Linked DNA regions of Homo sapiens: region 2 is linked to region 1. A link means that fine-mapping ties the variant in region 1 to the expression of a gene that starts in the linked region. Tissue or cell type: Th17 cells. Region 1 holds a variant in brackets; the other region holds the start of a gene. All regions are shown on one strand. Distances are between the middles of the regions.

The links. PIP is the estimated chance that this variant, and not a neighbour inherited with it, causes the effect.
Region 2: it holds the start of GMIP, and the variant in region 1 is fine-mapped to the expression of GMIP in Th17 cells (Schmiedel 2018, PIP 0.92).

The regions. Positions count from the first base shown.
Region 1 is chr19:19,563,226-19,571,327 of GRCh38, reverse strand. It overlaps PBX4 (PBX homeobox 4), which reads left to right. Exons shown (of 8, transcript NM_025245.3): 3 at 495-742; 4 at 1,029-1,219; 5 at 1,744-1,879; 6 at 6,239-6,395; 7 at 7,713-7,819. Among named protein-coding and RNA genes, the nearest start is that of CILP2, 29 kb to the right of the region's middle. The variant AG/G (reference allele first, on the strand shown) is at 4,627.
Region 2 is chr19:19,638,738-19,646,839 of GRCh38, reverse strand. It overlaps GMIP (GEM interacting protein), which reads left to right and starts at 3,183. Exons shown (of 21, transcript NM_016573.4): 1 at 3,183-3,329; 2 at 4,221-4,305; 3 at 4,789-4,864; 4 at 4,973-5,030; 5 at 6,269-6,394; 6 at 6,480-6,544; 7 at 6,648-6,755. The coding sequence starts at 3,311. ATP13A1 (ATPase 13A1) reads left to right here. Exons shown (of 26, transcript NM_020410.3): 23 at 493-635; 24 at 855-966; 25 at 1,050-1,193; 26 at 1,308-1,642. The coding sequence ends at 1,418. RefSeq lists a silencer at 3,090-3,339 and enhancers at 3,970-4,129, 3,351-4,306.

The sequences.
Region 1 (8,102 bases):
CCCCAACACACACACACCCCACCCACCAGCCACAACAGGCCTACAGCTGCACAGTCCTGGGCCCAGGCCAGCCACGCTGCCAATGCCAGCCTGCCACTTGCCTTTATCAGTATGCAGCATCTTGGGTGCCCCCTCTTCCCCAGCACTTCTTGAGACTCGGTTCAGGGGTTCAGGTGACCCCAGCAACAGGCGCCTGCCTGGCCCTGCTGCGTGCACACAGCTGTGACCAAGGTTTGCCCTCACAGGCTATGCCAAACTGCGACCTGTGTCTCCCCGTTCCTCCCCAGACTGCGCTCTAAGGATGGCACTTGGACCCATGTCTTAGCGGGGTGCTCAGTGTCCATCATCCAATTTGGTGATAAAGTGGAGTATTCCTTTCTCCCGAAGGGTTCTATGCAAAAATCTTCAGACATAACACCAGTGCTCACATTTTCTCATGGTTTGTTTTCTCTCCAGAAAATGAATTGTGACTTGTCCCGGTCTCTCTTATCTAGTGGTAAGCATCCGTGGCATTCAAGACGAAGATCCCCCTGACGCCCAGCTCCTGAGGCTGGATAACATGCTGCTGGCTGAGGGCGTGTGCAGGCCCGAGAAGAGAGGAAGAGGAGGAGCGGTGGCCAGGGCCGGCACAGCAACACCAGGTGGCTGTCCAAATGACAATAGCATTGAGCACTCTGACTACAGGGCCAAGCTGTCCCAGATCCGACAGATTTACCACTCTGAGCTAGAGAAATATGAACAGGTGATCTTTCTGCATGGAAGAGTTTCTGTCATGTGAATGCGCATTTGTCAAAGCGAAACACGGAACGCTAACCACCTTTCTTTCGTGGCGCAGAACAGGGAGTCCATGCAGTTGGTCGCTGCAGAGGTGGTCCATTGTTACTGAAAGCCCTTTCCATTTACTTAACAGTCACCCGCCGGTGTGTGAACTACAGGGGGTGGCAGGCGGCTGCTCCGCTGTGGAACCTGCTGCCCTGTGCCACCCTGCTGCCTAGTCACAGGCCGGCGTGTCTGTGCTCCCACCCCAGGCCTGTCGTGAGTTCACCACGCACGTCACCAACCTCCTCCAGGAGCAGAGCAGGATGAGGCCTGTCTCCCCTAAGGAGATTGAGCGCATGGTCGGCGCCATTCACGGCAAGTTCAGCGCCATCCAGATGCAGTTGAAGCAGAGCACCTGTGAGGCAGTGATGACCCTGCGTTCGCGGCTGCTCGATGCCAGGTCAGGGCCTGTACGTACCCAAAACCTCAAGGGCCGGCTCTGAGGGACTGGAGGGAAATAGTGCTGGCTTGGGTTGAAGACAGCCCTGGAGGCTGTGTCTGCAGTCACGGTTGGAGGCCTCACAGCCTCTTGGGAAGAAGGCCTGAAGTATTGCTGTTTTCATTTTTATTTTATTTTGTATTTATTTATTTATTTATTTGAGACGGAGTCTCACTCTGGTGCCCAGGCTGGAGTGCAGTGGTGCGATCTCCACTCACCACAACCTCCGCCTCCCAGGTTCAAGCGATTCTACTGCTTCAGCCTCCCGAGTAGCTGGGATTACAGGCTCCCGCCACCATGCCCAGCTAATTTTTGTGTTTTTAGTAGAAACGGGGTTTCACTATGTTGACCACGCTGGTCTCGAACTCCTGACCTCAAGTGATTGCTGTTTTCAGAACTACTGGAAAATCATACTCAGAACTAGAGGTGGGGGTGGTACTGGAGTCCCAGCATATTAATGCCTACGAAGGCGGCTGTTTTTGCAGGCGCAAGCGGCGGAATTTCAGCAAGCAGGCGACGGAAGTGCTGAATGAGTATTTTTACTCCCATCTGAACAACCCTTACCCCAGCGAAGAAGCCAAAGAAGAGCTGGCCAGGAAGGGCGGCCTCACCATCTCCCAGGTGACGTTCTCTCCTGCCACGTCTCGCCACGCCTGGGAGGAGTGGATGACTAGGTCCCATGAGGACACCCAGGGAAGTTTGTTAAATGTGTGCAGAGGCCAGGCATGGCTGCTGGAATCCCAGCACTTTGGGAGGATGAGGTAGGAGGGTCGCTTGAGGCCAGGAGTTCGAGACCAGCCTGGGCAACATAGTGAGACACTGTCTCTACAAAAAATTTAAAAAATTAGCTGGGCTTGGTGGTGTGCACCTGTGGTCTCAGCTCCTTCGGATGCTGAGGTGGAAGGATCACTTGAGCCCAGGAGGGTGAGGCTGCAGTGAGCTATGATGGCGCCACTGCATTCCAGCCTGGGTGACAGAGTGAGATCCTATCTCTGAAAAACAAAAAAAGTGTGGAACAGGAGCCAAGTCTCCAGGCTCTGAGTCAGCCAGGCCAGCTCAGATCCAGGCTCTGCATTACAAATGTGGGACTCCAGCGCTCTCCCCGTTCATCTGTGAGGCAGGGGTGCAAGTGTACCCACAGAGAGACCTGAGGACTTCCTGAGCGATGCAGATGGAATGCGAGGTCCCAGAGGTGATGCTGTGGAGTGTGAGCTCCCTGAGGGACACAGACGGAGTGTGAGCTCCCTGAGGGTTACAGACAGAGTGTGAACTCCCTGAGGGATACAGACAGAGTATGAGCTCCCTGAGGGATACAGATGGAGTGTGAGCTCCCTGAGGGATACAGACAGAGTGTGAGCTCCCTGAGGGTTACAGACAGAGTATGAGCTCCCTGAGGGATACAGACGGAGTGTGAGCTTCCTGAGGGATACAGATGGAGTGTGAGCTCCTTGAGGGATACAGATGGAGTGTGAGTTCCCTGAGGGATACAGATGGAGTGTGAGCTCCTTGAGGGATACAGATGGAGTGTGAGTTCCCTGAGGGATACAGATGGAGTGTGAGCTCCTTGAGGGATACAGATGGAGTGTGAGTTCCCTGAGGTGACTGAGGTGGAGTGTGAGCTCCCTGAGGGATACAGATGGAGTGTGAGCTCCCTGAGGGATACAGATGGAGTGTGAGCTCCCTGAGGGATACTGATAGAGTGTGAGCTCCCTGAGGGATACAGATGGAGTGTGAGCTCCCTGAGGGATACTGATAGAGTGTGAGCTCCCTGAGGGATACAGATGGAGTGTGAGCTCCCTGAGGGTTACAGATGGAGTGTGAGCTCCCTGAGGGATACAGATGGAGTGTGAGCTCCCTGAGGGATACTGGTAGAGTGTGAGCTCCCTGAGGGATACAGATGGAGTGTGAGCTCCCTGAGGGTTACAGATGGAGTGTGAGCTCCCTGAGGGATACAGATGGAGTGTGAGCTCCCTGAGGGTTACAGATAGAGTGTGAGCTCCCTGAGGGATACTGATGGAATGTGAGCTCCCTGAGGGATAAAGATGGAGTGTGAGTTCCCTGAGGTGATTGAGGTGGAGTGTGAGCTCCCTGAGGGACAGAGATGGAGTGTGAGCTCCCTGAGAGATACAGATGGAGTGTGAGCTGCCTGAGGGATACAGGTGGGGTGTGAGCTCCCTGAGGGATACAGATGGAGTGTGAGCTCCCTGAGGTGATTGAGATGGAGTGTGAGTTCCCTGGGGGATGCTGTGGAGTGTGAGCCCCCTGAGGTGACGTGGTAGAGAGTGTGAGCTCCCTGACTCTATAGCCTGGTAGGCAGCCACCAGTGTCCTCTGTGGAACTGGGGGTGAAAGAGGGAGACACTAAGACCAAGAGGCTAAGAAATATTTCCGAAGGTTTTAACATGGAAACAGTAAGTCCAGGCAGCCTATGGCAGCAAGCCAGGTCCAGGCCATACCCCCGTGGCAGCATGAGTGTGTGGAACAGGGCCTGGGTGCCGCCCTCCCACCTGGGCAGGCACAGCCCCACAGCCTCTATGGCAGCAGGAATGGCAGGTGCTGACCCACAGCATGGCTTGCTGCATGTCACCACAGCCCTCCCTACTTTGCAGTTGGAGGGGCTGAGTTTCTAGTCCTTCACCACCATGCTCTGCTCCAACCCAGGCTAAGTCCAGTCAAGTCTCTGTGACAGAGAGCAATTGGAACCCCTCGGGGTCACGCAGGCAGCAAAACATCCTGAGGTCATAGTCACATATGACTTTGCTCATCGGGATCTGCTGTGGTGTCAGAAACAAGGCCAGAGCTGGAGCAAGGGGCTGCGCCTCTGGGTCTTCAAGGCCCCTGGAGAAGCGTGAGACATTTGGCCCCCAAGGAACAATTGTCTGGAGGACAACCAGGGCTGCTTCAACCAGGATGGAGCCTCTGGGGCCTCCCATGTGGATCAAGAGAAGGCTGCTCACACCCCCGGGGTAGGCAGACACTATGTTTGGAACAGAGAGCACACAGACAGGGATCCTTCTTTTTATACTTAACATTGCAAGGATAATGTAAGTACACCAAATGTTGGCCAGGCATGGTGGCTCATGCCTGAAATCCCAGCACTTTGGAGGCCAAGGCGGACGAATCACCTGAGGTCAGGAGTTCGAGACCAGCCTGGCCAACATGGTGAAACCCCGTGGCTACTGGAAATACAAAAATTAGCCAGGCTTGGTGGCACATGCCTGCAATCCCGCTACTGGGGAGGCTGAGGCAGGAGAATCATTTGAACCAGGGAGGCGGAGGTTGCAGTGAGTTGAGGTCGCACCACTGCACTCCACACTCCAGCCTGGGTGACAGAGTGAGACTCCGTCTCCGAAAAAAAAAAAAAAAAAA[AG/G]TACAAAAATTAGCCAGGCTTGGTAGCACGTGCCTGTAGTCCCAGCTACTGGTGAGGCTGAGGCAAGAGAATCACTTGAATCTGGGAGGCAGAGGTTGCAGTGAGCTGAGATCGCACCGCTGCACTCCAGCCTGGGTGACAGAGTGAGAAAAAAATGTTTGAAGTAGCAAAGGTCATCCACAATCCTCTTCCATCCCTCAGCTGTTTCATTTCTGTGTGTTATTATACTATACGTTTATTTTACTTGCTTTGGGATACTGAAATGTGGCCCTGGATGGACGTCTCCATGCCTGTAGGAAGGCGCTGGCCCTGGGGTGCTCACCCATGTGAATCTGCCCAGGGGACATTTTTGTTGTCACGACTAGAGAAGGGAAGTGCTCCTGGCACCCAGTGGGTGCCAAGGATACCGCTCAGCACCCTGCAGTGTACAGGACAGCCCCCACAGAGCAGATGGAGCCCAAGCATCAGCAGTGCCACCAAAGGTGACAAGCCCCTCCCTGGGGGACTCCAGTGCCAGTTTGCAGTCAGAGCTGGGCTGATTCCACCTTGGCCATGGACTAGCTCCTTTTTCTCCTGCCTCTGCTTTCTTACAGCAGGGACGATAACAGCTGCCTCCCAGGTCCTCATGAGGATGAGGCAGAATGATATATGAGGCTGGGCCTGGAATCCCAGCATTTTGGGAGGCCAGGGCGGGAGGAACTCTCAAGCCCAGGGGTTTGAGACCAGCCTGGGCAACAGAGCGAGACCCTATCTCTAAAAAAAAAGAAAAAATATATTTTTTTTTCTGAGACAGGGTCTCACTCTGTTGCCCAGGCTAAATTGCAGTGCGATCTTGGCTCACTGCAACCTCTGCCTCCCAGGTTCAAGTGATTCTCCTGCCTCAGCCTCCCGAGTAGCTGGGATTACAGGCATGTGCCACTGTGTCCAGCTAATATTTGTATTATTAGTAGAGATGGGGTTTCTCCATGTTGTCCAGGCTGGTCTCGAACTCCTGACCTCAGATGATCCCCCCACCTCAGCCTCCCAAAGTGCTGAGATTACAGGCGTGAGCCACCACGCCCGGCCAAAAAACCTTTTTTTAATTAAAATTAAGAAAAATATATGAATATATGAGAAGTGCTTATCCTAGCACCTGGTACATTCCAACTACCCCTTCAGAGTTCACCTTGTTTTCATTTGATAAGTTTGGGATTCGATCGCAGTTACTGGGTCCCCAGGTCTCCCTGGCTCTCACTTTTCCTGAAGAGAACACGGAACGTAACCTGCCGCCTGCTGCATGGCAGCCAGAGGCGCTGTCCCTCCCGGCCCACCTCAGACAGTCTTGTTTTCCTTCCAGCCCCTTCCCAGGTTCAGGTTCCAGCAACATCCAGTTTTAGGCAGCAGAGTTCTAAGACACGCCAGCTCCAGGGTGTCCTCAACCCATGTGGACATCTCCCTGGGTCCGTGGTTCAGAGGGCGCCACCTTCTCAGTCCCAGACTCTTCATAGCCCCAGGGTGCAGTGTTGTCTTCTAAGGCAGTGGGAGCAACGGGCACCCCAGGGAACCCACAGACTGCGTCGTGTCTCAGAAGTCGCTGGGTCAGCTCCTCCAGTGACTCCTGTGTGTCCGCAGGTCTCTAACTGGTTTGGCAACAAAAGAATCCGGTATAAAAAGAACATGGGGAAGTTTCAAGAAGAGGCTACCATTTACACGGGTAAAACGGCTGTGGATACCACGGAAGTTGGGGTCCCAGGGAACCACGCCAGCTGCCTGTCAACACCTAGCTCCGGTGAGTGAGGCTGGCCCAGGGACAGTCATCTGTACCCATGTGGACGGCCACTGAGCTGCATCTGGGGAGGCCACAGTGGGACCACATCTCCCTTCCCCCAGTGGTCAACTCTGTGTAACTCTTTCTTCTGTTTCAACTGTGAGAGTTCTGTTCCTCTTGGCCATGATCCCAACCAACAGATACCTGTGCTTTGGGGACAGAATGGCGATACTAATAAGAAAAGACATGAAAGGTCTGGGTGCGGTGGCTCACACCTGTAATCCCAGCATTTTGGGAGGCCAAGATGAGTGGATCACCTGAGGTCAGGAGTTTGAGACCAGCCTGGCCAACATGGTGAAACCCTGTCTCTACTGAAAATACAAAAAAAATTAGCCCGGCATGGGCTGGGTGCAGTGCCTCACACCTGTAATCCCAGGCCGAGGCGGGCGGATCACGAGGTCAGGAGATAGAGACCATCCTGGCTAACACAGTGAAACCCCATCTCCACTAAAAATACAATTCACAATAGCAAAGACTTGGAACCAACCCAAATGTCCAACAATGATAGACTGGATTAAGAAAATGTGGCACATATACACCATGGAATACTATGCAGCCATAAAAAATGATGAGTTCATGTCCTTTGTAGGGACATGGATGAAACTGGAAATCATCATTCTCAGTAAACTATCGCAAGAACAAAAAACCAAACACCGCATATTCTCACTCATAGGTGGGAATTGAACAATGAGAACACATGGACACAGGAAGGGGAATATCACACTCTGGGGACTGTTGTGGGGTGGGGGGAGGGGGGAGGGATAGCATTGGGAGATATACCTAATGCTAGATGACGAGTTAGTGGGTGCAGCACACCAGCATGGCACATGTATACATACGTAACAAACCTGCACATTGTGCACATGTACCCTAAAACTTAAAGTATAATAATAATAAAAAAAAAGAAAGAAAAAACAAATTATCTGGGCGTGGTGGTGGGCGCCTGTAGTCCCAGCTACTTGGGAGGCTGAGGCAGGAGAATGGTGTGAACCTGGGAGGCAGAGCTTGCAGTGAGCCAAGATCGTGCCACTGCACTCAAGCCTGGGTGACAGAGCGAGACTGTCTTAAAAAGAAAAAAAAAAGACAAGCCATGAGGGGACATGAGTAGTGTGGTGGGGAGGGCCCGCTGGCCTGCCTGGGTGGGGGCTGAGGAGCAGAGGCCGGATGCTGAGGAGGGGCAGGAGCCACATTCGAGGCCTCCTGCCGGCTGAGGGGCTGGGTGGGTTCCACCTGAGGAGGCGCCACGACTCTGCCCACCCCGGCTCCCATCTCTTCCAGGCTCCTCTGGACCCTTCCCGCTGCCCAGCGCTGGGGACGCCTTCCTCACCCTGCGGACTCTGGCCTCTCTCCAGCCTCCTCCTGGGGGAGGCTGCCTGCAGTCCCAGGTGAGTCTCAGGCACTGTCCCACAGCGCCCAGGTGGGTGGTAGGTTCTCAGAAAGGGTCGTCTTGTCAGCCACCCCTCGGCCTTGGGGCAGCTTCCCCAGAGGTCCCAGCAGCCACACAGGCCATGCTGCGCGGCCACCTCTGGGGCACAGCTCTGCAGGGCCCCACTCTGTAATGACTGTGCCCTCCCCCACCTCCACTTGTCACCACGGCAGCCGCTGGGAACAGTCAGTGGGGATGAACCCCAAGATGAGGGCTTTGGCTGTGGAGGGGAAGGGCACCTC
Region 2 (8,102 bases), 76 kb before region 1:
CTAAGTGGGTCATAGGCTACACAGGACAGGCTGGTGGACAGCTGGGGAGGCCTGTGCGACACCGACACTCAGGCCAAGGCGTAAAGAACCAGGGGGGCCAGCGGCCAGGAACTGGACACAAAGGCCCCAAACAGGCATGGGCTGACGCAGGGAGTCCCCGGTGGCTGGAGGGGGTGGGAGATTGGCTGGGCGGGACTGTGCCTGTCCCGTGGGCTCCAGGGAGGGCAGGATCTGCTTCATGATTCTCAGGCCCCTGTGGCTGCCATGGGGAGCCTGGATGGCGGAGCCGGGGCCAGGGAGGCAGCCCTGGGCTCAGGGGTGAGAGGCAGGCAGGGATCCAGGGACTGGTGCTGACCCATGGAATCCCCCAGGATTTGGTGGTGGCTGTACACAAGGTCTCCCGGGAGGCAGGGGATGTTACTGCCTGCTGTGTGGGCAGGGTGGCCCCAAGTGAGCCAGATCCTGACTCCCCCACCCGCCTTGCTGCTGCAGCCCCTCAAGACCCTCTCCCGAGAACGGCCCCTGCCCAACATCTTCAACCTGTACACCATCCTCACCGTCATGCTCCAGTTCTTTGTGCACTTCCTGAGCCTTGTCTACCTGTACCGTGAGGCCCAGGCCCGGAGCCCCGAGAAGTAAGTGCTGCCTTGGAGGAGGTGATGTCCCTGCAGCTGAGAATAGCAGGAGGATGACTCCACAGACTTCAGCAGGAGAGGCTGGGGGTTGTCCAGGGTGTCCAGGGAGGGGCACTAGGCCAGGCAGAGCCCTAGCTCTGTGCCAGGGCAGCAGGAAGCCACACAGTGTGTGTGAGCCGGAGCAGGAGAGGGGGCCCTGACTCCCATGTGTCCTTGCAGGCAGGAGCAGTTCGTGGACTTGTACAAGGAGTTTGAGCCAAGCCTGGTCAACAGCACCGTCTACATCATGGCCATGGCCATGCAGATGGCCACCTTCGCCATCAATTACAAAGTAAGGCCTGGGCCCTGCCCAAACATTCACTGTCTGCCCACCCAGCCCCACCCCATGAAGCCATCTGTCCCTCATCCCCACAGGGCCCGCCCTTCATGGAGAGCCTGCCCGAGAACAAGCCCCTGGTGTGGAGTCTGGCAGTTTCACTCCTGGCCATCATTGGCCTGCTCCTCGGCTCCTCGCCCGACTTCAACAGCCAGTTTGGCCTCGTGGACATCCCTGTGGAGGTCAGTGGCCCTGTGGAGGTGACCCTGGGGCTCAGCTTGATGGGTCCCTCCTATGGCAGTGACCCTGAGCTGGGCTGCAGGTCTCCAGCTCACCATCCCTCCCTGCCCCGACAGTTCAAGCTGGTCATTGCCCAGGTCCTGCTCCTGGACTTCTGCCTGGCGCTCCTGGCCGACCGCGTCCTGCAGTTCTTCCTGGGGACCCCGAAGCTGAAAGTGCCTTCCTGAGATGGCAGTGCTGGTACCCACTGCCCACCCTGGCTGCCGCTGGGCGGGAACCCCAACAGGGCCCCGGGAGGGAACCCTGCCCCCAACCCCCCACAGCAAGGCTGTACAGTCTCGCCCTTGGAAGACTGAGCTGGGACCCCCACAGCCATCCGCTGGCTTGGCCAGCAGAACCAGCCCCAAGCCAGCACCTTTGGTAAATAAAGCAGCATCTGAGATTTTAAAAAGCCCTGCCTCCACCTCGTCTGTGCCACACGGTGTTTGCTGGGGGCTCGGGGACAGAGGGTCACTGAGGAAGGTCCCAGCACCCTCCCCACAGGCGTGTGATGTTGGTGAAACCCTCTGGCACTTTCAGCACTTGAACATGGACTTGTCCCTGCCCAGAGAATTCAGTGCATATTTTCTAGTTTAACAAGCACCCCCATATTTCTGAGGTCTCTTTCACATTTTAACAACTCAGGTGCTGAGAGAAGCCTTAGGATGTGTGATATTTTTTTCTTTCCCATAATACATAACAGCATGCCTTTCTCTCGGGTGGTGTCTGAGACTTGAGGAATATGATCTGCATCATTACAAGTATTGACTCTGTCCGGTGGCTCAAGCCTGTAATCCCAGCACTTTGGGAGGCCAAGGCGGGCCCATCACAAGGTCAGGAGATCGAGACCATCCTGGCTAACACAGTGAAACCCCATCTCTACTAAAAATACAAAAAATTAGCCAGGCATGGTGGCGAGTGCCTGTAGTCCCAGTTACTCGGGAGGCTGAGGCAGGAGAATGGCGTGAACCCAGGAGGTGGAGCTTGCAGTGAGCCGAGATAACGCCACTGCACTCCAGCCTGGGCAACAGAGCGAGACTCCAACTCAAAAGAAAAACAAACAAGTACTGACTCTGTCATGCTCTTTGGGGGCCTGCGCTGCTCTACCATCTCATGTCACAGTCAGGGAGCTCTGGCTGAGCATCAGCCAGGATGTGACCTGGAAACCTGGCTTGGCTCTTAGGTTGATAGTGTTATTCCTTTCAATGGACTCACTCATCACAACTCAAGAACTGCAGAGTAGGCAGCACGGAGCCAGTCAGAGAATCCTTGCCTCCTTAACAGCCAAAGCCTTTGGACACAAAGTTATAAACATACTTTAAAGTCTATTTCCAGCCCCAAAATTCCACTGTGCTGGGGGTGGGAGCATTTTTATAACAGGCGGCTTGTGGCAACCCCAGAGCTGGTGCTTTTGGACAAACCTCCACTCCCTACCTAAAAGGGCTGCTCCCTGGTGTGCTGTAATTGGGGCCTTGAGCCTGATCCAGCTTTGAGGGTCACGGAAGGGGCGTCCCCCAGGCCAGGGGTTCTCCAGCCCGAGTATTAGAATTTTGGTTGGAATCGGACAGAATATCAGGCCTCCACCAGGGGGCGCCATGGCTCCAGCGAGGCCCAGGTGGTTTCAGGGCTCCGAGAGACAACCTGGGCAAGGGGATCACCAGGGTCGCGGGTTGTGGGAGCTCCTGGGAGAGGCCCCCCGGGACAGGTGGACTCTGCAACCATTCAGGGAGGAGGGGGCTGGGGCTCCGTGGGATTTGGGGTAGCACAAAGATCTGAGAGGGAACCTATGGCCCAGATGAAGTCTTAGGATGCCCAGGTCAGGGGCACTGCAGCCTCGAGTGGTCGCTCAGGGGGCCCTGGCCCGACCCAGTTTCAAGCGGCTCAGGTAGAGAAGGGCACTATCAAGGCTTCCGGGCTACGGGGGCGTGGTCTGATGCGGGGGCGTGGCCTCCGCTGGGCAGGGCGACGCGGAACCGAGGCGGCGGCGGCGGCTGCGGCGGCAGGAAATCGGGGCTCGGCCCCGCCGGCGCGCGACCCCATCCCCATCCCGGTCCCTGCAGAGCGATCCCCGGGCCCAGATATGGACGCAGCAGAGCCGGGTAGGGGGTCGGGGATCCGGGAGGGGCCTCCCCCGACCATCCCCTGCTTCCTACATTGAGGGCACACACTTGTCCCGCTCCGTCCTGAGAGCCAGGAGAGGAGTTCCTGAATGGGAAGGACCCAGGGATCCTCCATTGTGGGGAGCCCTGTGCCCGGATGGGTTCAGGACCCCAGCCCTTCACTCCCCCTCCCCCTTTTGATCCCTCACCCCAGACGCCTGGGGGAGGGGGCCCAGGAAGGGGAAGTGACTGCTTCTGCTTCTGATTTTTGTGATGGGGGCAGGGTGCCACGACTGCTGAGGGAGAGGGCAACGCGGTAGGATCCCCACAGGGCCCCTCTGTAGCCCTGGGGAGTCGGCAGTGCTGGTCTAGGCCCCTTAGGAGAGGGGGCAGGGGGGCAGCAGTAGAAATGTGGCGGGGTCCGACTTGGTGTTTCCGGCCGTCTTTGTGTCTGTGTTGTGTATGTGGAGTGTCATTCGGTCTTTATGTCCCTCACGGCTTCAGTCTCTCCATGTGTGTTTCTGCCCCAGGCTCTGCCTGGCTGTCCCTTGTGTATTTCCATCTGTCTAGCCCGTGGTTCCATTGTCAGACCGGCTTTCTTCTCGGGACAGCCTGGTTGCATCTGGGGCATCTGTTTTGTTGGTTTGCTTCTGGGTGCAGGCAGACCCAGGGAGTGGGTGTCTCTGTTCCCCGAGCAGCTGTCTCTGGTCTCTGGTGGTGTGTGAGTCCATCTGCCTGCCTCGAGTTGGCCCCAACCAAGCCCCCCCCAGCCCTCTCTTTCTCTCTCTCACTCTTCCCTTTCTCTTCCACCCCCTCCAAATGAGACTGGTTGAGGTGCCGTGGGTGGAGGGAGGCAGTGGTTAGCCCATGTATTACACTCCCCTCCCCTAGGACTCCCCCCAGGTCCTGAGGGCAGGAAGAGGTACAGTGACATCTTCCGGAGCCTGGACAACCTCGAAATCTCACTGGGGAACGTGTGAGTCTGAGCCTGGATCACCCCCAAATCCTGCCAAGATGCCCCAAGCCCCTAACCATTTAGGTGCCTTGCAGTCCCATTTGGAACCTGTAACATCTGGACCTACATACCTAATAACCAGAGAAGTCTAGGATGGGACCCTCCAAAATGCCTCGGTATCCTAAAAGTGTCCCCCTAAATAGACTGGAAATCCCCAAAGTGGTCCTAGAACCCCTACATATCCTTGTAACCCCTTAAAATATTTGCGATCCCTATAATCCCACTCTATGAACCTCAAAGTTATCTGGGGCCCTTCAGATGCTTTTTCAAGTCCTATTTAAAAAAAACTCACCTGATTCCCCCAAAACACCATTCTTCAGACCTCCCAGACACAAGAGATGCCACAGAGGTGATGTTTGCCACAAACAACCCTAAGGTCCCCAGCACCCCTTGGCAGGACAGACTGGGTGTAAGGTGGCATCCTGACACACCTTTATCCCCCAGGACCCTTGAGATGCTGGCTGGAGACCCTCTACTCTCAGAAGACCCAGAACCTGACAAGACCCCTACAGCCACTGTTGTGAGTGGGGAGTAGGGGAACAGGGAGGAAGACCTCAAGCAGAGGGGGCCTTAGGAAGGCCAGGCCCCTGCCCTGTTTGCTTCTGAATACTGTCTCCCTCCCGCACAGACCAACGAAGCCAGCTGTTGGAGCGGCCCCTCCCCAGAGGGTCCTGTACCCCTCACAGGTAGGGGGGTCTGGAGGCCAGGACAGTGGGGACAGACAGGAGTCTTTCCTTCAACAAATCACCACTGATCCCCTGTTCCATGCAAGGCATCGTTTAGGTTTTGGGAATATGGCAGTACACACAACAGATCTCAGTCCCAGCCCTCAGGGAGACCCCAGGCAGGGTGGAGGCTGAGGTAGGAGGATCACTTGAAGCCAGGAATTCGTGACCATGCTGGGCAACAGTAAGACACCATCCCTACCAAAAGAAAAAATATTTTTTTAATTAGCTGGGTGTGGTGGTGTGTGCCTGTAGTCCCAGCTACTTTGGAAGCTGAGGCTGGAGGACTGATTAAGCCCAGGACTTTGAGGCTGCAGTGAGATACGATTGTGCCACTGCACTCCAGCCTGGATGACAGAGCAAGACCATGTCCAAAAAAATCAAACACAAGGCCGGACGCAGTGGCTCACGCCTGTAATCCCAGCACTTTGGAGGCTGAGGCGGGTGGACCACGAGGTCAGGAGATCGAGACCATCCTGGCTAACATGGTGAAACCCCATCTCTACTAAAAATACAAAAAAATTTAGCCGGGCGCAGTGGCGAGTGCCTGTAGTCCCAGATACTCGGGAGGCTGAGGCAGGAGAATGGCGGGAACCCAGGAGGCGGAGCTTGCAGTGAGGCAAAATAGGGCCATTGCACTCCAGCCTGAGCGACAGAGCGAGACTCCGCCTCAAAAATAAAAATAAAAAAACCCATCAAACACAGGCCGGGCACGGTGGCTCATGCCTGTAATCCCAGCACTTTGGGAGGCCGAGGCGGGCAGATCACCTGAGATTGGGAGTTCGAGACCAGCCTGACCAACATAGAGAAACCTCGTCTCTACTAAAAATACAAAAAATTAGCCGGGCATGGTGGCGCATGCCTGTAATCCCAGCTACTCAGGAGGCTGAGGCAGGAGAATCGCTTGAACCCGGGAGGCAGAGGTTTTGGTGAGCCAAAATCGCGCCATTGCACTCTAGCCTGGGCAACAAGAGCGAAACACAGTCTCAAAAATAAATAAATAAATAATAAAATAATAAAAAATAAAAAACAAAAAACAGTGAATCTGTAAAATTGCAACCAGGACAAGTGATCCCAAAGTAGTGTTTGGGGAGCTGTGAGGCTGTAGGACAGGTGCCACTGGGCTGGTCTGGGGGCTTAGGGAAGACATCCATAGCAGACTAGGGTGCAAAGGTCAGAGGTCCATCCATCTTCCCCAGGGGAGGAACTGGACTTGCGGCTCATTCGGACAAAGGGGGGTGTGGACGCAGCCCTGGAATATGCCAAGACCTGGAGCCGCTATGCCAAGGAACTGCTTGCCTGGACTGAAAAGAGAGCCAGCTATGGTGAGGACCTCTTCCGCCCAGCCCCAGTTACCAGGCAGTCCCCAGACCCCAGCTAGACCCAGAGCCCGGCTCTCTCTTCCCCCAGAGCTGGAGTTTGCTAAGAGCACCATGAAGATCGCTGAAGCTGGCAAGGTGTCCATTCAACAGCAGGTAGTCATGACCAGACCCCCCCGGAGAGCCCAAGCCCCCTAGAACCCCACCTTTGTCCCCCACAGATCTTCAGTATCCTCCTACACCACTCTGTCTTCCCCAGAGCCACATGCCTCTGCAGTACATCTACACCCTGTTTCTGGAGCACGATCTCAGCCTGGGAACCCTGGCCATGGAGACAGTGGCCCAGCAGAAAAGAGACTACTACCAGGTGAGGGGGGCAGGGTGGAATGTTACAGAGGTCACCCTGCTATCCTGCTGTCCTTCAGGCCTGATCCCCTCGTTTCCCAGCAAGCTGGGAGGAAGGCACCACTACCAACGTCGCCATTTCATTGATGAGGAAGCTGAGGCCCGGGGATGCTTGGGAACTTGCCCAAGGTTACCCAGCAAAGATTCAAGCTGGGCTTCCTGTGCAATTGCAAAACTTCACTTTACTTTTTTTCTTGAGACAGAATATCTTGCTCTTTTGCCCAGGCTGGGGTGCAATGGTGCGATCTCAGCTCACTGCAACCTCCGCTTCTTGGGTTCAAGCAATTCACTTGCCTCAGCCTCCTGAGTAGCTGGGATTACAGGCGCCTGCCACCACGCCCGGCTAATTTTTGTATTTTTAGTACAGATGGGGTTTCACCATGTTGGCCAGGCTGGTCTCCAACTCCTGACCTCAGGTAATCCACCTACCTCAGCTTCCCAAAGTGGTGGGATTACAGGCGTGAGCCACCACGCCCAGCCAAAAACTTCGTTTTTGTTTGTGGGGAGGGGAACGAGGTGCTGAGTGTTCTCAGGAGGAAAGCCTTGGTGTCTCTGCTTCCAAGCAGAAAGGATGGGGTGACTACATGAGACTTCTGGACTCAGGGGTCGGGGAGAGCAGGTCTGGAGAAGACCCCAGGAGGAGAATACTGACTCAGAAAAGGGTCCAGCCTGGCACGGTGGCTCATGCCTGTAATCCCAGCACTTCTGGGGGCCAAGGAGGGAGGATTGCTTGAGCCCAGGAGTTTGAGACCAACCTGGGCAACATAGTGAGACCCCCTGTCTCTACAAAAAAAAAAAAAAAGTTTTTTAATTAGCTGGGCCTGGTGCACATGTCTGCAGTGCTAGCTACTAGGAGGCTGAGGGTGGAGGATTGCTTGAGGCCAGGAGTTCGAGACTAACCTGGGCAACATAGTGAGATCCCTGTCTTTATCTACCAAAAAAAATTTATTTATTTATTTTTTTTTTTGAGACAGAGTCTCACTTTATCATCCAGGCTGGAGTGCAGTGGCATGATCTCAGCTCACTGCAACCTCTGCCTCCCGGGTTCAAGTGATTCTCCTGCCTCAGCCTCCCGAGTAGGTGGGACTATAGGAGTGTGCCATCACATCTTTATAATTTTTGTATTTTTGTAGAGACGGGGTTTCACCATGTTGGTCAGGCTGGTCTTGAACTCCTGGCCTCAGGTGATCTGCCCACTTTGGCCTCCCAAGTGCTGGGATTAAAGGCATGAGCCACTACACCTGGCCAACCAAAAAAAAAAAAAAAAAGAAGAAATTGTTTTTTAAATTAACTAGGCCTAGTGCACATG